2 separate regions of the Homo sapiens genome follow, and region 1 is reported to be linked to region 2. Evidence: microRNA targets listed by miRTarBase, many of them from high-throughput screens and not tested one by one. Region 2 holds a microRNA gene; the other region holds the end of a gene's coding sequence.

Region 1 (14,755 bases), not on the chromosome of region 2:
TGACCTTGCAATCTAACATTTCTGGGCTGTTCAGTTCTGTAACAAGAAAAATGAGTATTTTACTAGTTGTGATCATTATATTGCTTGAAGAGGGAGATTTTAGAATGTAGTTCATTTTAATTAAAGGCCTACATCAGATACTGTCTTAGCTCATGCTGCAATGATAAAATACACAAACAACACAAATTTATTTCTGCCAGTTCTGGATACTGGAAGTCTGAGATCATGGCTGGGTTCTGGAGAGAGCTTTCTACTGAGTCACAGACTACTGCCTTCTCATTGTATCCTCACATGGCAGAAATAGAGCTAGCTAGCTCTTTGACCTCTTCTTAAAAGTGCACAAGGATATCCACCTTTATCAACTAATTCTCAAAGTTGCCACTTCCAAATACCATCACATTGGGATTACGGCTTCAACATATGAATTTTGGGCAACACAAAAACATTCAGTTCATTGAAGATGTTGAAATTGTTATTCTAGATAATTTTAAGGAAAGGAAACAAGTAGCTCTTTTATCCAAACTAATGTTCAAGACATATCAGCTGGGCGGATAATGCTTGAGATGATTTCCTTAAAGGCTACTGTGTTTGGTGTTCTTTAGGTAATATTAAATTTTATAAAAGCCAAAAGTCCTAGTGTAATGATTTTGTCTCATTTATTTTTCAGCTCACTTCAAGAAATCTCCATGTATGCACAAGTAACTCATCAGAAGGCTGAGGAGATCTATAGATATATTCACTATGTATTTGACATACAAATGTTACCAAATGATCTTAACCAAGATAGACTGAAATCTGATATATAATCAAGCTGCTCAAGATGGGGTTTTCAAAGACCTCTCACAATATTAAATGCACTTCAATAATCATTGCTGTTTTATGTTTATTTGTAAATAAGAGAATATTTTATTTAAATATTTTATATTGTATACATTTTTATTTATAGATTATAGAAATTATTAAAAAAGAAAAATCTGATGTTCAGTGATCATTTTGACTAGATTATAAAACTAATTTTTCTTATTAAATAAAACAAGGTTTATTAAAAGTGTTACTAAGGATAGTTTAAGAAAGTAAAAGCTAAGCTAGAGATATACTTTGGAATGTTTCCCAAAATTAAAGTTGTACTGTTGTGATAAATAGTAAAGTTGACATGTCTATGACTACAGCCAACTTGTCGATTTTCCCTATGTGTAGATAGTATACTTTTAAGTGTACTGATTCTAAATACATGTACTTGGTAAGGTGTGGGTGATGGGTGGGTTGTGAGATAAATGACCCAGTAACTAGGAAAGTAGAAAACTTAACTGAATGTTTATCTGACCAAAGGTGTGTCCCAGTTAAGTACTGTCAAATCTATTAATATGAACTCTGATATGGTTTGGCTGTGTCCCCAACCAAAATCTCATCTTGACTTGTAATCTGAATTATAATCCCAATATATTGGGGAGGGACCTCCTGGAACGTGATTAGCTCATGGGGGCGGTTCCCCCATGCTGTTCTAGTGATAGTTCTCAGAGGATCTGATGGTTTTATAAGCTTTTCCTCTGTTCACTCTGCAGTTCTCTTGCCTACTGCCATGTGGAAAAGGAAACGTTTGCTTCCCCTCCACCATGATTGTAAGTTCCCGAGGCCTCCCCAGCCATGCAGGACTGTGAGTCAATTAAACATCTTTTCCTTATAAATTACCCAGTCGGGTTATTTCTTCATAGCAGCGTGAGAATGGACTAATACAAACTCCCAGCTACATTACTCTTTTTTGTTGCTGAAATATATTCAAAATGGTATATTGGTTTGGACTTAGAAAGTTTCTTTTTAATATAAATTACTGAATGCAGGCCCATTATGTTGACCCTATTATATTTACCGTTTTGATCCATTCTGTTGTCTGTGATGGCATTAAGAAGGCTCTGCTTGGGGCCGGGCGCGGTGGCTCACGCCTGTAATCCCAGCACTTGGGGAGGCCGAGGGGGGCGGATCACGAAGTCAGGAGATCAAGAACATCCTGGCTAACACGGTGAAACCCCATCCCGTCTCTACTAAAAATATAAAAAAATTAGCCGGGCATGGTGGCAGACACCTGTAGTCCCAGCTACTCAGGAGGCTGAGGCAGGAGCATGGCGTGAACCCGGGAGGCGGAGCTTCCAGTGAGCTGAGATCGTGCCACTGCACTCCAGCCTGGGCGATAGAGCCAGACTCTATCTCAAAAACAAACAAAAACAAACACAAACCAAAAAAGAAGGCTTTTCTTGTATCTGCAATATATATGACATCTTTCTTCTAGTCAGTCTAGTACTAAAGCAGCCTTGAATTATGTGAGTCCTTTATTCTCGGCCTCATTTTTACCCCTATTACATTGTTGGGTAGTTGAACCAGCCTCACTGCAGAGCTCTCCTCACCTTAAATCTGGCGGGGACTTCAGAGCTCATGTAATTCAAATCACTTCTCTTTCCTTTCTTACCAAATGATAAAAGTGATGCCCAGAAACAAGTGACTTATTCAAGTTTAGACTGGCAAATCTAGAAGCAGAACTCACAAACTAGGTATCATTCTCTTTCACTCTATGGTGTTGATAAAAGGGGACAAAAAAGTTACTCTAATTGTTTAGCTCCTTTGAGATAGTATCAACTCTCAATTTGTATGAAAGCAGCTGACTTATGTATGCTGCTCAATAATTCTGTCAAAACCACAGAGAGGAAACACTAAGTTATTGCCTAGTGTGCAGTTATCAGTTTATTATAACTGGACTTTTTGAGTATTTCTCCTTTAGTAGTGAGCACAATGCTAAGCTGTGACAGGAGGAAAGGAGCCTCTTTGTGGTTCCACTGTGCTACATCTTCATGTATCTTGCTCCTGCCACATTGTCAGCAGGGCCTGTGGGTAGGGACATCTGGTGGTGCTTTGCCCCAGCTGCATGCCAGAATCATGCAGTCCCTCAACAACCTCACACAGAGATACCACCACCTGCTCAGACTCAGCTGTGTGTGCACCCGTCAGACAAAAAAAAGTACATAAATTAACATGGTGTTACAGACATAACCTAGAGGATTTCATTTATTTATGCTTGCTGTATGGAGAGCTCTATCCATATTTAGGCTTGCAATAGCCTCCTCCTATATCCTCATTGGTAGCCATTAACCATTCATTATCCATCTTATTATTTAAGTCCTTAAGGTCTTTTTTCTTTTCCACTTTTAAGTTTCCTTTGGGGGTTACTTACCTTAAACCTTATCATTAGTTCATCTTATGACCTGATAGAAATAGGACAAGCCAGGTACCTGGCCGGTGAGATACCTTAGTATAGGGAAGGCGCTGAAGTTCTGATACGGATATATGGGCAGTAGGGGTCAAACTCAAGTTTATGCCATTTCAATTACCTTTTTACTTTTTGTTAAGGGATTTAACCACTTTCTTAACTCCTAAAACACTATCCATTAACTTCAAGCAGTATAGCATTAGATCAAATATTGGCAACTCAAGTTCTGCAACGGCATTTTTTTTGGCCACTCCAAAATAACCCTTTCTTTTGATCCATTCTATATCCACCAAGGGTCTTTATGGCAGAAATAATCATGGTAGTTTAAAGAAAGAATTATCTTAGTCCAATTGCACTGTTCTTTTTACAGTGTTTCCGTAAGTCCTATAATTATATAACTGCTGATTATTACTATTTTATTTTATTTATTTATTTATTTTAAAAGGAGTCTCTGTTACCCAGGCTAGGGTGCAGTGGCCAGTTGCAGGCATGATCATAGCACAGTTCAGCCTTGAACTCCTGGGCTCAAGCTATCCTCCTTCCTCAGCCTCCCAGGTAGTTGAGACTACAGATACATGACACCATGCCTGCTCTGACTAAAACACTTAAGAAACAAGAAAATGTTATTAATCATTTTTTTTTTTTTTGAGGAAACTTAAACAGGACCAGTCATGATTTGTTTTTATTTCTATCATCCAGTAATTAGTAACAAACAAAAAACAAGAAACAAATACTATAAAAGCAAACTAACTTTATTTGAATAATCTAAATAGAGAACAAGGGTAGGTGAATGTGTAGCCAGAGGGAAAATATCCTATGTCAAGTTTCAAAACATAACAAGCAAAAATAAGTTTATTTCTAAAAGAAATTTCAGTGAAAGAAAAAGGATGTTTATTATGACATAATATATTGATTCCTAATGGTGGATCTATTAACTGTTTGTCTAATCTAGTCAAAATATTTAAGCTGTTTCTGCATATGTAAATAAGGCTTAAAAATTAGAGAACAAAATCTGTTCTCTAATTTTACCTAGTAAAATAATGGTAAAGCAATAAACTAAATTTACAAAGGTTTCATAGATATGCCTATCACAAGTTTAAAATAAAAACAATCAGGAGAGAAGCATGTCAACAATGTGTAATTTAATTTCAACAATGTGTAATTTAAACATTAGGTTTGGATAACAACTGGTAACAAATCCTACTCTGGCTTGGATAATAACTGCTAACAAATGCTAACTTAAAAGTTTTCATGAATTCAATAGCTACCAATACAACCTCTGTCATCCTTCTCACCTTCTCTTACTTAAATGGTAGCAAAATTTTCTTGAAATAAAAAAAAATCTGTTTGGGAAATGGTTTTCTTAAAGTAAACAGACTTGGATGCTTATTAAAAAATTATCTATATATATTTTAATATGCAAAAACAAATTTACAGATATCTACACGAGCAAAAACAATTTTCTTTACATTTTTAGTAAGCTGCAGCAATGAGGATATTTTACTTTGAACACAAACATATGAAACCTTCAAAAAAGTCCACATTTTCATAGGAAGCTACTTTACAAAGAAAATACATGTACTCCAGTTGAAAATACAAACACTGTCTGCTTTATGGTAAAAATCCCAGGAATCATATTTTCTCATTTTACTATGCAGAATCAGAGTTCGAAAAATAATAATCTTTCTCTTCTTCATCTAAAGATTCCACAGCATTAGTGAAAAGTTTTCCAATACCAGAGTTTTCTCCTAAGTCTGTAAAGAGAAGTTTAATAAAAAGATAATAAATTTCTAAAAGTACTTTCAATAAAACTGAAAACAACTATAAGGAATAAAATGCTAAGTCTGTCCACTTGAGAGCAATTAATTTTAATACCATTTAAATAAAGAACCTACCTTATAATAGAACTGAGCCACAAAAGAAAGCTGTAAGTGTATTACCTGTGTTAAATGGGGTTTTCCTTCTTGGTGTTGGAGTTGAGAAATCAGTTTCAACCTATAAAAGAGTTACTATTAATAGCTAAATGGTACCTCCTGGTGAAGTCTACCTCAAATCTAGACAAAATTAAGCATGCTTATCCCCAGATTACTTTGAACATATGCCTATAACAACATTTAATCACATTATAATTATCTGTGAAATGCATAATTCTCTTTTGGGTTTATCCAGGGCAAGAACCATGACTTACTCAATGTTGTTTCCCAGTGCTGGCAAACACTCCTCTAAGAAATTATTATAAACTAATGCTATAGCAGTTAAAGGATAGTCTATGGGCCTCCAAAAGTTGCCAAAATGTGCTAAGTAATTAAGTAATGAATATACTGGTTTGGTAAACTTAAAATATAAACACAATTTATCATGATTATATATAGTAATTATAATTACAATACTATACTGTACTATTACAGTATAGTAATTACTATACAGAATACTAATTACTGTATTACTTTTACCTACAGTCTGTTATTATAACAGTACAATGTTTTATACCAGCAGAATTTTAATTCTCTGTACTTGAAATTCTTGGCTAAAATGGTAAAGTAAATGGCAAGTTTGAAGTACATGCTCACACACATTACAATGCTTATCAAACTATTGGCCATGGCTGGCAATCCTTAAAAATCTTTTAAAAATAAAAAGTAACAGAACAGAAAATATAGTAGCCCTTAGAGTAAGTACTGTTTTAAGAAATTTTTGAGATACAAATTCATGCTCACAGACTGTGATATAAATGTATTTTTTTCTGAGATGAGGTAAAACACTGCATTATATCATTTAGACCTCAAAATCATTTGGTAACATAAATCAATATAATCATGATCCCCATTGTCATACCACACATGAATAAAATGGTATTAGAAAGCTCAAGTAACTTGCTCAGTGTCATAAAGCAAGGGAATCAAGGGGGTTCCCATAAGTTACCATTCTCGAAGATTAGCTACTTAGAGGAAATTTGAGATGAAATACTTTTTCCAGAATCCTAGTACTTATATATGATAATCAGTTATTGCAATTAAAATCAGAAAATTAAAAATTTAAAAAGTAATTCAAGGGGATAAAGGACTGTCCTAATCTTTTCTCTAAGGGATATAGATCATTCTATTAAGGCATCTTTCAGTTAAAAATTTTTCTGTAGTTGGATTTTAAATGTTAGAATGTAAAAAAATAAAAAGTAAAAAAATAAAATTAAGTAGCTAAATCTGAAAAACACCTGAAGCCATTTTAAAGCTACATAGAATTTGATGAAATTTCTTACTTTATGAGAATTGTGACTCAGTCTGAATTATTCTTCAATCCTTGAACAGGATTGTTTTTGTGTTTTGTGTTTTTGTGTTTTGCCTGAAATATCCTTCCCAGACCTCTGTGTATATTTTTCCCACCCTTCATTTCCCAAAAATCAAAGTTTTTAGCCATTTTCCCCTTGCTCCAATGTTTCAGTCAATGTGATGCCATCTGTAATCCTACAGTACTTATGTGCTTACCTCATTCATGGCTTCATTATTGTAACTTGTTACATTATAATCACCTCAGGGACAGGGACTGTTACATGACTTACAACTACCACAGTTTATCACATATTAAAGTTGTTTCATAGATATGTATTGGATAAAGAAAAATACTTACTAATTTTTTCTTGATGTTGCCCCAGACAATACCACCATTACTTTTATGATATTTTTGCATACGAAAAACATATTTATCACAGTCATTCCTGTTTGAATACGAAATAATTTTAAGTCAACAATATTTTTAAGTCAACCTAATAATTTTAAGTTAACTGTCATACTTTTAACCACAGGTTGAACAACAATTGCCTAAATTAATTTCAAATGTATTTCTTTTTTTGAAACAGGGTCTCACTCTGTCGCCCAGGCTGGAGTGCAGTAACATGATAATGGCTCACTGCAGCCTCAACCTCCTGGGCTCAAGTGATCCTCCCAACTCAGCCTCCCAAGTAGCTTGGACTACAGGCACGTGCCATCATGCCTGGCTAATCTTTGTATTTTTCTTAAGAGACAGGGTTTCACCACATTGCCCAGGCTGGTTTCAAACTACTGAGCTCATCAAGCAATCTGCCCTCCTGGGCCTCCCAAAGTGTTGGGATGACAGTCGTGAGCCACCACGCCTGACCTCAAACGTATTTCCATCTTTAAAAAGTACATTCTGTATTTTAAAGAGGACAATAAAATGTGCCTATGGAGATGGACAAAATGCTTAAATCAAACATTTTACAGGAAATACTGATCAAGACTATTTTGGGAAATTATGCTTTGCTTACCGTTCATTGTACCGTCTACGCTCTTTCCGGTATCTTGCTGCCTCTCTTGGTTTTCCAAAACTCCCACTGAGACTTCTTCTCCTTGGACTCCCTTTTGCTATACCATTATCTCTCCTGTTCACTTCCTTCCCTGTCCTAATTGAATCTCAGTTTATTCACTTTAAAGATATGCCTGGTGATTGAAAACTGTCAATTTTTCCAACTGTGCTGGGTTTCTAATCCAGCTCATCAAGCCTTTTATTTCTACAAAATTTTATCTTTCTTGAATTCCCCATACCAACCACCAAATTTTTTTTCTTTATTTCATTTCCTTTACCTTATCTCTTCCCTTACAAGCAAATATGCTTCACTCATAACTGAAGAGATTAAAAGCCAAGTAGAATTGTTGGTTGTTTTTAATTCCCTAAACCCACAATTCCTAATCCCACTTATGACAGTAAATACCAGCTGAACATCCATTTCCATACTCTCTCTTGGCTCTAAGATCTTACATACCTGAGTATCCTCTGTTCTTTATGACTATTTGGGAACAACCTTAAAGGCATGACATGAAGAAATGTGACTCTATTAAGATATTTATCTGAATCAAACACTGCTGTATAGCAATGAATAAACCTCGTCAGTTTTTAGCAAATTGCTTAACAAATGAACAGGTGTGATCCCAGCACTTTGGGAGGCTGAGGCTGGCGGATTACCTGAAGTCAGGAGTTCAAGACCAGCCTGGCCAACATGGTGAAACCCCATCTCTGCTAAAAATACAAAAATTAGCCAGGCACGGTGGCATGCGCCTGTAATCCCTGCTACTTGGGAGGCTGAGGCATGAGAATTGCTTGAACCTGGTAGATGGAGGCGGTAGTGAGCCGAGATTGTGCCACTGCTCTCCAACCTGAGCAACTCCATCTCACAAACAAACAAAAAACAAATGAACAGGCCTAGCCAGTTGTTCAGGATCAGCAACTGGTAAGTCTATTATCAAAGAGATGTCTTTGAAGACAAAGAGTTTTTCACTTCTGAAGTGATATAACTGTTTGATTACTTAAAACTGTTATGAAAAGTACGTCAATTACTAGAGCTAGTAAAGTCAGAGAGAGTGAAGAAGCCTAAGAAAATCATTTTTTTAAGAAAAAAGTTTCAGACAATATAGATTCATAACATAAGTGAATCTATCGTGTTTCTTTAATTGTAAAAGTGACATAAATGGACAGAAAATATCCCCCAAAACAAAAAACAAAAACCCACAACCCACACTGGTGTCATTCTACAACCTAGAAAGAATGGCTGGTGATGTGTAAGTTAAGAAATTTCCTTCCTTACGAATTTGTTACATAAAATTGGGATCATGCTGAATGTAGTTTTCCTAGCTTTTGAAAACTACTATCCACTGGACATTTTTCTGTCATTAAATTCTTGAAGACATGATTTGTTTCATATTCCATTATATGGATAAATCTTAATTTATAACTTTCCTTATTTTTGGATGTTTTGGTCATTCTCAAACTTTCAGTATTATGTTTTATGATGAACATCTGTGTTCCAAATCTCATATTTCCTTAAAGTGTCTAATAAAATTCAACGGCCAAAAGGATGAAGTTGTTTTTTTTTTTTTTTTTTTGGAGACGGAGTCTCGCACTGTCACCCAGGCTGGAGTGCAATGGCGTGATCTCGGCTCACTGCAACCTCTGCCTCCCGGGTTCAGGTGATTCTCCTGCCTCAGCCTTCTGAGTAGCTAGGATTACAGACACACACCACCACATCCGGCTAATTTTTTGTATTTTTAGTAGAGATGGGGTTTCACTATGTTGGCCAGACTGGTCTCGAACTTCTGACCTTGTGATCCGTCGGCCTCAGCCTCCCAAAGTGCTGGGATTACAGGTGTGAGCTACCGCGCCCGGCCACGGATGAATATTTTAAGGCTTTTGATGAACTGGTCAAAGTGCTTATCAAAAAATTTGTCCAAAATAGTATTCTCAGTATGCTTTCCCCTGCACTAAATACTAAAAATAATTTTTAGATGCCTAGGAAAATTATATTTTTATCCAATAAGTGCAAATTAAAATTTTAGCAATTTAGCAAGCTTCCTGAGAGTACTGAATAGTTTTTTTCTCAGTCACTATTATCTTGCTTCTGCCTCTCATTCTGTGGAAATTGCTCTAAGATCAGCAATGGCCTCTTACTTGCCAAATGGAATAGCCTATTTTCAGGCCTCATTCTTACTATTTTCCATCTTTTTTTGGTGACATTTTATTGTTAGTCACCCCTACTTTTTTCTTAATTTTATTTATTTATATGTTTCAAATTGTTCTTGTATTCACATGGTTCAAAATTCAAAAGCCCCCCTCTCCTTCCTCCAGCTACCTTAGTTCTCCCTAAGGATCACCAATGTTTTGGTTTCTTATGCATCCTTTTATAAAGACTTAATCTAATAAAAGCAATTATACACACACACACACACACAAGTATATACATATATGCATACATACATATAGCTTCTATTTACACAAACAGTAGTATATTATTCACTGCATCTACCTTTGTTTCATTTAATATATCTTAGGCATTTTATCATAATAGCAATAAAAAATATCTTCATTAATTTCTTTTTTTTTTGAGACAGGATCTCACTCTGTTGCCCAGGATGGAGTGCAATTGTTGCAATCACAGCTCACTGCAGCCTACACCTCTGGGACTCAAGCAATCCTTCTACATCAGCCTCCCTAGTAGCTAGGGCCACAGGCTTGCCCCACTGCATCCTGCTAACATTTTTGGGTTTTTTTTGTAGAAATGGGGTCTTCCTATGTTGCCCATGCTGGTCTTGAACTCCTGGGCTCAAGTGATCCTCCCAAAGTGCTGGGATTACAGGCTTCAGCCACTGTGCCTGGCTCTTCATTAATTTCTATGACTATATAATGGACCAGAGTTCATTTAATTAGTCCCTACTGATAGATTTTTGAGGTACTGCCATTTAAACAATGCTACAATGAATAAGCTGTACATTCACAATTCTATAAGTAAAATTCCTAAGTCAAAGGGCATGTGCATTTATAATTTTGATACTTACAAATTGTTGCTGCAAAGATCGCACTACTTTACCTTCTCACTAGCAATGCACAAAAATTAACAATGCATTCCTTGTTAGTTTGTAGGAATGCTGTATATATTACGGAAATTAGCCTTTTGCCTGTGACAAGTTGCATATATTCTTTTCTCAGGTTGTCTTTTGTTTGTAGTGGTTGGTACCAGGTAAAATTTGTTAAACATTTTTACACAGTTGACTTTATTCATCTTTTCATTAATGGCTTGTAGGTTTTATAGTATAGTTAGAAAGACCATCACTAATCTGGTATTATAAAATAATTCTCCAAGGTTTCTTTAGTTTTTTTTTTTTAAAGTTTTTTACAAGTAAAACCTTGATCCATTTCGAATTGATCCAGAAGTAAATGTGGGTTATATCACAATGCTGTTTATTGAATAGCACCCCGATTTGATGAACTTGTCCATCCTTAACTTCTAGAAACTACACATTCTTGATTTTTTAAATAATGCCTCTTCCCATTACTGGCATCTATGGTCCTCATGAAATGTTTAAATGTTCCTCACTACTCTGATGCAGAGAATTAACATATCATATGCATGAATATTTACCTATTTATAGAACCTAGCATGCCAGGACTGACATGCTGACATTGAGGAGTTTTTACCAATGGAAAGATAACTGATGATGGAGTTGTTGGATTTTTGTCCATATTTGGCAGAATATCATCATCATCTTCACTGTCCTGGAAACTTGGCAACTAGAAAACAAGTATTTATTATCAGCAGGCACCCCATAAAAGGTATTTTCTCATTATCACAAAATAGTTTTGGAGGACTGATAAGTTGGTTCTTCTTGTAACTTTCCAAGTTAGATAATTAAAAACAGTAGTACGTAGAGGAGTAGAGGCTAGAGGAACTCCATTTTAGATGCTAATTCACCATGCTGACTTCTGATTAAACCTGGATCTGGAAATGCCTCTAAGATTTCTACCTCCATATACTTACTGGAAATCTTGTCCTTAGGTCAAAACAACCTTGGTGTTATCGTAAACACATACTTACCATAAATACAGCCCTTAGGCAAATTCCCTATGGTATATAAACCCTGGGTCTGGGGGGATAACAGTGCCCAAATCCACCATCTTGAGGCCACCCAAGAGATGGCTTCTGCTCAAAAGTCTCTATTAAATGTTTCTGAGAAACTGGATTTGTCACCCTCTTTATTCAGCCTGTAACCGAGTAGCGTGGCTTCAAACCATGTTTTAAAACTTTTTTCTTTCTTTCTCCCCAATTTTAAGATATAACTTTGAGATAAACTACATGTGTTTCCATTCATCTTGAAATACAGCCTCAAAATGTGAACCTCCGTTTCTTTACCCATTCTATGCTCCCATGCCTTATGCACATGTTTTTACCTAGACGCTTTTTAAGTGCACACCATGCTCATTTATCTGGTCATGTATTTCCTTAGAAGCTTCAGGGGCCGGATCCTGGCATAAACTGGATACCTCCAGAATTCTCTCCCCAGTCAAGGCCAAAACTCACTCCCATCTAGAAATTTACTGCAAGATTTACTACAATTAATTTGTAACCTGGTTGAGCCCAGGATGGTGCTGGCCCCTTCACCAAATGGAATAATATTTCAAGATAAGCTGTTGGAGCAGATTGAGCCACCTAACACCTCCTAACCCCCTCCTCTCCTGCATTCCAAATCATTCTCTCTTTAAAAACTCCTATGTTCACTCCACAAATTGAAGACTGGAATTTCTGGAATTTCACCCACACTTCCCTTTGCTGGCACAGATAATAAAACTCTATCACACCTTGCTCTTGTTATATTGGCTTCTTTTTACAAGCGGCAAGTAGTTGGACCCCTATTGCTGGTTACAATTTTTGGTGGCCCATACAGGGAGCCCTGTGTATTCACAGGAGGCTCCAGACACACCTATCTGATCTTCTGTTGGATAGGGCCATGGAGCCACCTGTGAGTGCCAGCTGCTCATGGCTAGCTGACCCTGTAGTAAGAACATTAGGGGAGCTTCCAGCAATAGCCAAGGTGCCTTTGTCTTGCAGAACCTCCTTTTCTATTTCTGTCACAGCATCTGCTGCTTCCAAAGCTTCACTGATACAAAGAGAATGTGACATTTTGAAGAAGTCGACAAATGTTGGAACCAGGTGAGCTGCTGATGTGCACCCAGCCTCCCTCTGCCTCTTTTAGGGTGTTGCTGGGGCTCTGCTCTGTTTAGACTTAGCTGTTGGTGTCACCATTTGGCCATTTTTTTGCATTTGTATTTGTGGCACCCTCAGGGCTTTGCTCACATTGGACTGTCCCCTGGGGAGGGCCGTTTGAAACTGAGGCAAGGAGTTTGGAACTCTACCCAGCCCTCTTAACTGGGGATTTGTTTGGAGGCAGTGCACCATTTGTTTGCAGTGTAGGTGTGTAACCTTAATGTGTGTATGGGCCCTAATCTCTCTCTCTCTTCCTCCATCTTTTCTATTCCTCCCAGCTCCATCCCACTGACTAAATTGGAAACAAGCCATCTACAGCCTAAACTCCCCTGGGCCATAAACACCGTTAGCTTCCTCCAGCTGGAAATAGCTAACCTTGACTGGTGACTTGCAGAAGTGGGAATGTTACAGCAGGTTAACTAGTCAGGGATAAGCAAGGAATGAGAGGGCCTCCCCACCCCCCACCAGGAATGTTGTTAGGCGACCATCCTGTGATGGTCAGGTGGTTGTTAACTGTGTCTCTAAAATAATACTTAATCGCAGCCAGCACCAGGGAAAAGCAATCTCTCAATAAACAGAAACACCTAAAATTGGTGATCAGCAGCTTCCTCATAAGATCTCAGAAACTGGGCAAGTGGGCTCAAGCATGTGCATTAAGAGGAAAAATGGAGGAGTTTAACTGGTATATGACCTCCTAAGGACATCCGACTGGTAAGGGAGAAAGCCTCAAGTGAGCCTGTGTATAAATCCAGTAAACACACTGTAACTTGCTCCCCTCCCAAGTGCTAGCACGCCACTGGGCATGCAGACAGCCCGCCCCAAGGTTAGAATCCGGGGAGAAGGAACACAAGACCCCCAGAAGCATGCCAACATATAAAACCCCAAGTCACAAAGTTAAACCATGCTTCAAGTCACCTGCTTGGCCCTCTTCTGAGAGTACTTTCTTTCCTTTGCTTCCTGCTTTAAAGTGTTTTAATAAACTTTCATTCCTGCACTAAAACTTGCCTCAGTTTCTCCTTCTGCCTTATGTTTCCTTGGTCAAATTCTCTTTTTAAAAAATTTTTATAAGTATTATTTAACAAAAAATGGAGACGGAGTCTCCCTATATTGCCCAGGCTGGTCTTAAGCTCCTAGGCTCAAGGGATCCTCCTACCTCGGCCTCCCAAAGTGCTGGGACTACAGGCATAAGCCAGCACACCCGGCCAGAATTGTTTCTTCTGAGGAGGTAAGAATTGTGGTTTCTGCAGACCCGTATGGATTTGCTGCCAGTAACAGGAGGGATTCATCCTACACTGTATAGGTCTAAGGTGCTGAGGCTCTCCCTGACAGAAGATAAACAAGAATGATGGGGGTCTGCAGGTTGCACAGGTTTAGGCTATGTCTGTTAGAAATTTTAAGGTCAAGGAACAAGGACAAGGACAGAGCCTTAGCCTTTAAAAGACTTAATTTCTCTTGTGTAAAACAGAGATAATAACACCTATTTCTGAAGGTTATGTAGACCAGAGGTCAGCAAATGTTTTCTGTAAATAATCAGATAGGGAATATTTTAGGTTTTGTGGTCCAGTCTCTGTCCTAACTACTCAACTCTGCACCGTAGCATGAAAGTAGCCATAGACAATATACAAACAAATCTGACCCTTCGTATCAACAGAACAAAACAAAACTCTAATTCACTTACTATTATGCTTAGCCGTTAGTAGGAACCCAAGCAGTGTTAACCATTGTGGGGAAAAGAAAGAGAGATCAGACTGTTACTGTGTCTATGCAGAGAGAAGTAGACATAAGAGATTTCATTTTGTTCTGTACTAAAAAATTCTTCTGCCTTGAGATGCTGTTAATCTGTAACCTTAGCCCCAATCCTGTGCTCACAGAGACATGTGCTGTGTTGACTCAAGGTTTAATGGATTTAGGGCTATGCAGAATGTGCTTTGCTAAAAAAGTGCTTGAAGGCAGTATGC
Region 2 (8,434 bases):
CGGAGGAGGCTGTTTCTGTGGGCTGGGTGGTTGAGAGGAGAGGGGTCGGCTTTGCCGGGTTGAGGAGTGGGGTGTTGGTCTCAGGATGGGCGCATGGCACAACACTGCTGAAATTAGTTTTCTGTTTTCTGAGGTCCCCTGAACCTGCCAGGAGGGTGTTGTGAGGGAACTGGCCCAGCCCTCTGTGTAACGCTGGTGCTGCCCTTCCTGTGCCCAGCGGCGCCCCTGCCTCTTGCAGGCTGTTGGTTTCTGCTTGTGAGAGCAAGTGCTTCCTTAGTGGTCAGAAGCGTGTGGGATGGTGGCACAGTGGCCCCGTAACCCAGCCCCCTCTCCTGGGGCGTTGTTGGGACATCCAGGACCAGCTGGTGAGGGGCATGTTTTACCAGGGGGATGAAGACCCCCAGGCTACCCTTTAAAATAAGTCGGGCGTGCGGCCTCGCCTACTGGGCCTGCCCGGCACCTGAGTCTGAATGGCTTTGTCCAATAAACGCAATGGCAGGGGAAGACCACTTCACCTTCCAAGATGGCATTAAATCCAGATGAAGAATGTTCTGAGCTGGAAAAGTGTCCTGTGGCTTATGGCTGGGGGCTGAGTCCCTGCTGCTTCTCCCTCTAGGGCCTGAGCCAAGATTCTGCCAAAAGACTGCGCTTTGTGGCAGGAGTCATCTTTGTTGACGGTATGTGGGGCCATTGCTCCTCCTAGTCCCTGGCCACTTGGGGTAAGCCCTGCGGATCCTCCCTCTGGTGTGGACCCTCCCTCTGGTGCCGGTCCTCCCTCTGGTAGGATGTGTTGAGCTACTGGTGCTGCCCCTGCACTGAGGGCCTGGTGGGGACATCTCCCTGAAGGAGGCAGCAGATGTATCCATCGTTAGGTGGCATCACTGTTCCTGGAATCTAAGAACATCCTTAGAAAGTCGGGGGTGGGAGCAGGAGTGGCGGCTGCCCAGCCCCCATCACGGGGTCTGGGGACAAAGAAGGGCAAGTTAAGTGCTGATGGTGAGCGGGGGCCCAGGGGCCGACTCCCCGACCCTTGCTCCTGCAGAACGAACTCCTGGGGTGTTGACTGTAGCGCTGAGGTCAGCCGCAAGAGAGAAACCCCTGCCCAAAGGAAAATGGCCGACACCCCACAGCTCCGCCAGGAAGCACCGCCCTGCGGAGCGAGGCCTCGAAGGGTTTTCCCAGGTGGAGGTGGCCCTGCAGCCTGCCCTGCCTGGCTCCTCTCTGAGCCCTGACTCTTTCTGCCTGGGTTTTTCAGAGGGAGCAGCCTGTGGCCAGAGCCTAGAGGAGAGATCAAAGACCCTGGCCGAAGTGAAGCCCATTCTGCAAGCAACTGGGTTCCCATGGCATGTGGTGGCCTTAGAGGAGGTGGGAGGGCTGTCCCTGGAAAGGGGTCCCGGAGGTGACCCCTGGGGGGCACCTGCCCGTGTCCCAGCCTCACTGGCCTCTCCCTCATCCCAGAAGGCGGGGCTGTCGGTGGGGGGTGGGAGGCACCTGCCCGTGCCCCAGCCTCACTGCCGTCTCCCGCATCCCGGAAGGTGGGGCTGTCTGTGGGGGGCACCTGCCCGTGTCCCGGGCCTCACTGGCGTCTCCCTCATCCCGGAAGGTGTTCAGCCTGCCACCGTCGGTGCTTTGGTGCTCTGCCCAGGAGCTGGTGGGATCCGAGGGGGCCTACAAGGCGGCCGTGGACAGCTTCCTCCAGCAGCAGCATGTGCTGGGGGCCGGGGGTGGTCCTGGCCCGACTCAAGGGGAGGAACAGCCACCCCAGCCCCCGCTGGACCCCCAGAACCTGGCAAGACCGCCTGCCCCTGCCCAGACTGAGGCTCTTTCCCAACTGTTCTGCTCAGTGAGGACACTGACTGCCAAGGAGGAGCTTCTGCAGACCCTGCGGTGAGGCCCCGAGAGCCCCCCTTCCCCGGGCCCTGACCCCCACTCATGCCCCTGAGAGCCCCCTTCCCCGGGCCCTGACCCCCACTCATGCCCCTGAGAGCCCCCCTTCCCCGGGCCCTGACCCCCACTCATGCCCCTGAGAGCCCCCCTTCCCCGGGCCCTGACCCCCACTCATGCCCGAGAGCCCCCTTCCCCGGGCCCTGACCCCCACTCATGCCCCTGAGAGCCCCCCTTCCCCGGGCCCTGACCCCCACTCATACCTGAGAGCCCCCCTTCCCCGGGCCCTGACCCCCACTCATACCCCTGAGAGCCCCCCTTCCCCGGGCCCTGACCCCCACTCATACCCGAGAGCCCCCCTTCCCCGGGTCCTGCACCCCCCAGGCCCCTGAGACGCTCTGTGCTTTAGGACCCACCTGATCCTCCACATGGCCCGAGCCCACGGCTACTCCAAGGTCATGACTGGGGACAGCTGCACACGCTTGGCTATCAAGCTCATGACCAACCTGGCGCTGGGTCGAGGGGCCTTCCTGGCCTGGGATACGGTAGGCAGGGGCCTGGGTGTTCAGGAGGCCCATCCTCACCTTCACCCCTTCGGCCACCTTTACTGGAGAGTAGCCTCTCGCGTATCAGTCCTGCGGCCTCGGATGGTGGTGGGGTCTGTGACCTCCCCTACCTGGCAGGGGAGGAGGGGCAAGCACATTCGGGCCTTGACCTGGACCACACAGCCCCTGCCTCCCGCAGGGCTTCTCGGATGAGCGGCACGGGGACGTGGTGGTGGTGCGGCCCATGCGGGACCACACCCTGAAGGAGGTCGCTTTCTACAACCGCCTGTTCTCCGTTCCTTCTGTCTTCACACCAGCCGTCGACACCAAGGTGGGCCTTGTGGGCTGGGCAACCTCTCTCACCATTGACACCGGGGTGGGCCATGTGGGCTGGGCAGCCTCTCACAGGCTCAGGTCACCAGCACACCTTCAGTGACTCCTGCTGTGGCCCCCAGCAGTGCTGCATCCTCTGAGCCCACCCTGTGCCGTGAGGGTGTGGGGGTGACAGGAGGACCCCACAGTGGGTGCACTGCTGAAGCGGGTTCTCTGGCTGCCTTGAGCAGTCGCAGCAAAGCCAGACCCATGTGGGCCAGCAGCGTGGAACCCACGGCACCTGTCCTGGGGACTCTGCCCCAGCCTGGGGCTGGCCTCTGGGCTTTCCCATAGCCTCCAATCTGATTGTCCCTAGGCCCCTGAAAAGGCCAGCATCCACCGGCTGATGGAGGCCTTCATCCTCAGGCTGCAGACCCAGTTCCCCTCCACTGTCAGCACTGTGTACAGGTGTGGGTGTGTGTGGGTGTGTGCGGGGGGTGCGCGGGTGTGTGCTGTGCGCGGGTGTGTGCGGGTGGTGAGCTCACCACTCGTGCTCAGGCCAGGGCTTAGGGTGGAGCCCCAGCCCGTGTGATTCACCTGCTCCTCCCACAATCCGGCCACAGGACAAGTGAGAAGCTGGTGAAGGGCCCCCGGGATGGCCCTGCTGCTGGCGACTCCGGCCCCCGCTGCCTCCTCTGCATGTGTGCCCTGGACGTCGACGCCGCTGGTCTGTGTTTCATGCTCTTGGGGTGATGCGGGGAGGGAGCCAGGGAGTGGGTGTGGGGGCTCAGCAGCCCCAGGCTCCGTCACCCCCTCTCTGCTTGCAGACAGTGCCACGGCTTTTGGGGCTCAGACCTCCTCGCGTCTCTCCCAGATGCAGTCACCCATCCCCCTGACTGAGACCCGGACACCCCCGGGGCCCTGCTGTTCTCCAGGGGTGGGCTGGGCCCAGCGCTGTGGCCAGGGGGCCTGCAGGAGGTGAGTCCCTGTCCCTGCCACCCATGGCCAGCTGCATGGGGCGGGAGGGGGACCTGTCCTTACCCCACACTGCACGGCATTGAGGTGCCAAGGTGGGCACACAGCCAGCTCTGCTCCCGCAGGGAGGACCCCCAAGCCTGCATTGAGGAGCAGCTGTGCTACAGCTGCCGCGTGAACATGAAGGACTTGGTGAGTACGTGCCCACCTGTCCTGGGCCGGGCTTGGGGACGCGGGAAGGCCGTCACCTCGTGGGTGGCTTGAGGGGGTGCTGGCAGGTTTCTTGGCCCCTCGACACCGGCCTCTGTTGCAGCCCTCACTGGACCCCCTGCCGCCGTACATCCTGGCTGAGGCCCAGCTCCGCACACAGAGGTACTGGGGCCCACACTGCCGTGGCGCGTGGGTAAGGGGCCTCGGGGCTGGTGCCCACTGCAGCTTTCTCTCTAGGGCCTGGGGCTTGCAGGAGATCCGGGACTGTCTGATTGAGGACAGTGACGACGAGGCGGGCCAGAGCTGAGCGTGAGGACGTGCTTGCCGGGACAGCAGGCAGTGGCCACCTGGTACACCACACTGGAGCCGGAAGGCAAGGACGGGGGACTGGCCTCTGATTGTCCATTTGTATAAATAAAACATTTTTTAATTAAAAAAAAAACTCTACAGTACACGTGGGGGACGGCAGCGCCACGCAGGCCGTGGGGACGCAGTGTCCTTCTCTGACAGCAGCATCAGGGCTCAGGCAGGCCGGGAGGATGCATCACAGCTGGCGGCCTTGGACGGGGCAGTGGCTCCCCCGGCCTGAGGAGTGCCGCCCCTTGTGGCCACGCTGCCCAGCAGGCCGGCTCCTTCCCTCTCGGGCGCCAGCAGCAGCTCCTACTCCTTCTCACGAGTCCACTTGATCATGGTCTCCGGTGAGCGGTAGAGGAAGATGAGCTTGGCGTACAACTCCTCCTCCAGCTCCAGCTCCCGAGTCTCCCGCACCAGGAAGATGTCCTGGCAGAGCTTGAGGATGCGGTCCACGCACGGCAGCTCCTCGAACATAATGGAGTGCGAGATCTCGCTGAAGAATCCGCGCACGAACTTGCCGATGACCAGCACGATGGACACGTACAGCCCCATGATGCTGCGGGGGAAGCTGGTGAGTCCTGGGGCCGCCCGGAGCCCCCCGAGCTGCGGGGTGCCCCCCCAGCCACTCACTCACCCGTAGCCAGCCAGGAAGCCGAGGCTCGGTGGGCTGACCTTGTCACTGAAAATGACCATGGGCAGCAGGTTGCAGTCGGTCCGGCACTCCTGCAGCTCGATGACCCACCATTCGAGGAAGCCGGTGGCCCCCGCACCCTGCTCCCTCCGCAGCTGGATACGCACGCCGAGGTAGTCGGCCTCCTCATCTGGGATGGAGGGAGAAGATCGTTGAGGCCGCAGGTCACCCCTCTCTAGCCTCCCCCAACCCCCACGCCCATACTCACTGGGCTGCAGCTGCTTCACAGGGTTGGCTTCGGGCCCGTTGGGGGCACGGATGTACTTGGGGAAGAGATTAGGGATGACCCTGCAGGGAGGTGCTGGCAGGTCAGGCCTGGCCCAGCCAACCTGGCACAGCCCTCCTGCCCACCACCCGGGCCCTTCACTCACACAGACTGGTCCGAGGTGCCCTCGAGCAGGCTGGCCAGCTGCCGCCGTGCAGTGCTGTTGGGGGCCAGGGCCAGCATGTGCTTCTCGTTGGCATACTCCACAGTGCCTCCCTTCGCCAGGTCCCTGGGGGTGGGAACACAGCGTGACCCACTGTAGTGGGTCCACCCACCCAGGCACTGCCCCAAGTCCAGGACGAACCTCTGGAAGTTCCAGGTGAAGCGCAGGGTGATGTCGGCCGTGCCGTTGTAGAGCTCCCGCTTCATCTGGGCACGGCTGGGGGGACTGATGCGCCACAGCGCCCCGGAGCTGCCCTCAATCTGCGCCGTGACGATGTCCTCAGGGCTGTACTGGCTGATGAACTGCATGGCCAGCTGGGTACAAGTGACACCCTCAGTGACTGCAGCCGCCTCCCCACACCAGCTTTCACAGGGCAGAGGCCACTTACCGGCTGGGGGTCAAACTGCCGGGACAGCTCCTCATAGGCCTGGGCCGTGAAGGGGATGATGGACGGCTGCTGGGCGCTCATGGTGAACAGCGGCTGGGGCAGGCACGGGGACACGGGGCCACGAAGATGAGCGTGGAGGAGCGGCTGGGGGTGGTGCACCACCTTGGCCAGAACCCCCAGGGGATGGGAATGGACAGGCGGACCCACACATGCTCACCTCATAGCCGCCCAGCTTCAGGGTGACGGTGACATCGATGGGCTGGTTGACAACCCCAACCACGGAGCGCACCAGCGACATGAAGAGCAGTGGGAACCAGATGATGGCGATGAGGAAGAGGATGATGAGGCCACCCATGCCGTACTTGACGATCTTCTTCTTCTTCTGCCCTTTGGGCTGCGGGTATTTCTGGAGGGGAACGACACAGGTCATACGCTCAGCTCTGCCCTTCCTGCGGGTCACACAACCGCATTCTCCAGCTCACCCAGCAGCCCAGAAAAGCCCCAGCCTGACCTCAGTATGGCACAGCGGTAGTAATGGTGGGCAGACACAGGCCAGTGGAGTAGAACTAAGAGTCCAGTTGGAACCCTCATGTTCAGGGGTCGTTGATCTTAGACAAGGGAGCTGTGACCGTTCAGTGGGAACGGACAACCTTTTTCAACACGGTGCAGGCACCGCCCCAGGCAGGAGAATGAAACGCAACTCCTGCCTCATACCATGTGCCAAAATTTACCTCAAAGTGGATCAAAGAGCGAAACTTCAGAGCTAAAACTATAGAACTTTTAGAAGAAAACGGGCAAATCTTCATGAACCTGGATTTGGCGAAGGAAACAAAGTAAACCAGATATTACCAAAATAAATACTTTGTGCTTCCAAAGACACCAAGAAAATTTAAGAGACAGTCCATAGAATTGGAGAAATTTTCTGCAAATTTTAATTGATAAGGTTCTAGCAACCAGAGAATACAGAGAATTCTTCCAATTCAGTCATTTCTAGCCAATGTATCTGCAGAAAAACAGAAAAAACTCTAATAAAAAACAACCCAACTGCTGGGTGTGGCGGCTCACACTTGTCATCCCAGCACTTTGAGGTCAGGAGTTTGAGACGAACCTGGCCAAAAATACAAAAGACTAGCCAGGCCTGGTGGTGCACACCTGTAGTCCCAGCTACTCGGGAGGCTGAGGTGGGAGAATCGCTTGAACCTGGGAGGCAGAGGCTACAGTGAGTGAAGGTCATGCCACTGCACTTCAGCCTGAGATCCTATCTCAAAAGCCCAACTAAACTATGGAGAAAGGATTTGAATAGACATTTCCCCAGAGAAGATACACAAATGGCCAAGCACATGAAAAGACGCTCAGCGTCGGTCAACAGGGAACTGAGAAGAGCCCACAGCAAGCCACCCGTTCAGCAGCATGGCCAGAACAAAAAAGACATAGTAACAGGTTGTTGAGGATGTGGAGAAACCGCAACCTCGTGTTGGTGGTGGGAACCTTAGATGGTGGAGCTGCTATGGAAAACCAGCAGCTCCTCATGATGGAAACCACCACCAGCACTTCCGGCCCTGGCGTGCAGCCACAGGACCAGGGGCACGGGCACACAGACGTGTACACCGGCGTGCCTGGCAGCATCACGGGCAACAGCCCATCAACAGATGAGCATGTTGTGGTCCATCCATGCCACAGAATATCATTTGCCCATAAACAGGAAGGCCATACTGCCACGTGGGTGGACCTCAGAGACACCATGCTGAGCAAGGAAAGCTGATTACAAAAGGACAAACGCTGTCTGAGCCTGTTTTCATGAAATATCCACTGTAGGCAAATCTCATAGAACCAGGACCTAGACAAGGGGTTACTAGGGGCCAGGGGAGGGGAAACCGAGTGACAGCCAATGGGCACTGGGTTTCTTCTTTTTACTTTTTTAGAGACAGGGTCTCACTCTGTTGCCCAAGCTGGAGTGCAGTGGTGTGATCAGGCTTAATGCAGCCCTGTACTCCTGGCCTCAAGCCATCCTCCCACCTCAGCCTCCAGAGTAGCTGGGAGCACAAGTGTGCACCATCACACCCAGCTAACGTTTATTTTTTTGTAGAGAGAGTCTCACTCACTATGTTGCCCAGGCTGGTCTTAAAACTCCTGGCCTCAACTGATCCTCCTCCTTTGGCCTCCCAAAGTGCTGGGACCATAGGCATGAGCTGCCATTGCCAGCTAATTGTTTTATTTTTACATTTGCTGAGGCAGGGTCTCGCTTGTGGCCGTGCAGATCTTGAACTCCTGGCCTTGAGCAGTACCTCCCTCCTGGGTCTCTTACAGTGCTGGGATGATAGGGGTGAGCCGCTGTGCCCGGCCCGGGGTTTCTTTTTGAAGTGGTGAGAAGGCAGATGCTCAACTGTGAATCCACTAGAAACCCCTGAGTTGTACTTTTTACGTGGGGGAGTGGTCTGACGCACGAATTCTCTCTGAGAAAGGCCATTAAACAAGAATGCAGCAAACAGTGGCTGTCCGGTCCTCCCTGCACCAGGCCCTGCTCTGCTGCCAGCCTGCCTGGAACAGGACCAACTCCGCTGCCCACTTCTGCGCCCAGCACTCACTCGCAGCTGCCAAGATCACTGGCCTCGTGATCAGCTAGTGGGTGGGCTCGCCTCATGTCCCC

Evidence for each region. The annotated mature microRNA hsa-miR-4722-3p reads ACCUGCCAGCACCUCCCUGCAG and lies in region 2 at 5,260-5,281, opposite strand. An mRNA with a match to its seed (bases 2 to 7 or 8) in the 3' UTR can be bound and repressed. Matches are read on the target gene's strand: a 7mer-m8 pairs with bases 2 to 8, a 7mer-A1 pairs with bases 2 to 7 and ends in A, and an 8mer does both.
Region 1: the mRNA of FANCM is a reported target of hsa-miR-4722-3p. The part of its 3' UTR that is shown has no 7-base or 8-base seed match.

What each region holds. Positions count from the first base shown.
Region 1 is chr14:45,199,203-45,213,957 of GRCh38, forward strand. FANCM (FA complementation group M) reads left to right here. Exons shown (of 23, transcript NM_020937.4): 23 at 668-1,688. The coding sequence ends at 806. MIS18BP1 (MIS18 binding protein 1) reads right to left here. Exons shown (of 17, transcript NM_018353.5): 14 at 11,178-11,326; 15 at 6,881-6,968; 16 at 5,197-5,251; 17 at 3,988-5,010. The coding sequence ends at 4,907. Among named protein-coding and RNA genes, the nearest start is that of MIS18BP1, 47 kb to the right of the region's middle.
Region 2 is chr16:88,711,019-88,719,452 of GRCh38, forward strand. MIR4722 (microRNA 4722) reads right to left here and starts at 5,319; the gene lies at 5,260-5,319. It overlaps CTU2 (cytosolic thiouridylase subunit 2), which reads left to right. Exons shown (of 15, transcript NM_001012759.3): 5 at 617-677; 6 at 1,256-1,365; 7 at 1,604-1,887; 8 at 2,294-2,429; 9 at 2,629-2,760; 10 at 3,118-3,209; 11 at 3,365-3,468; 12 at 3,569-3,719; 13 at 3,842-3,908; 14 at 4,030-4,088; 15 at 4,164-4,378. The coding sequence ends at 4,233. PIEZO1 (piezo type mechanosensitive ion channel component 1 (Er blood group)) reads right to left here. Exons shown (of 51, transcript NM_001142864.4): 45 at 6,005-6,193; 46 at 5,788-5,880; 47 at 5,541-5,713; 48 at 5,343-5,465; 49 at 5,180-5,259; 50 at 4,915-5,101; 51 at 4,320-4,836. The coding sequence ends at 4,587.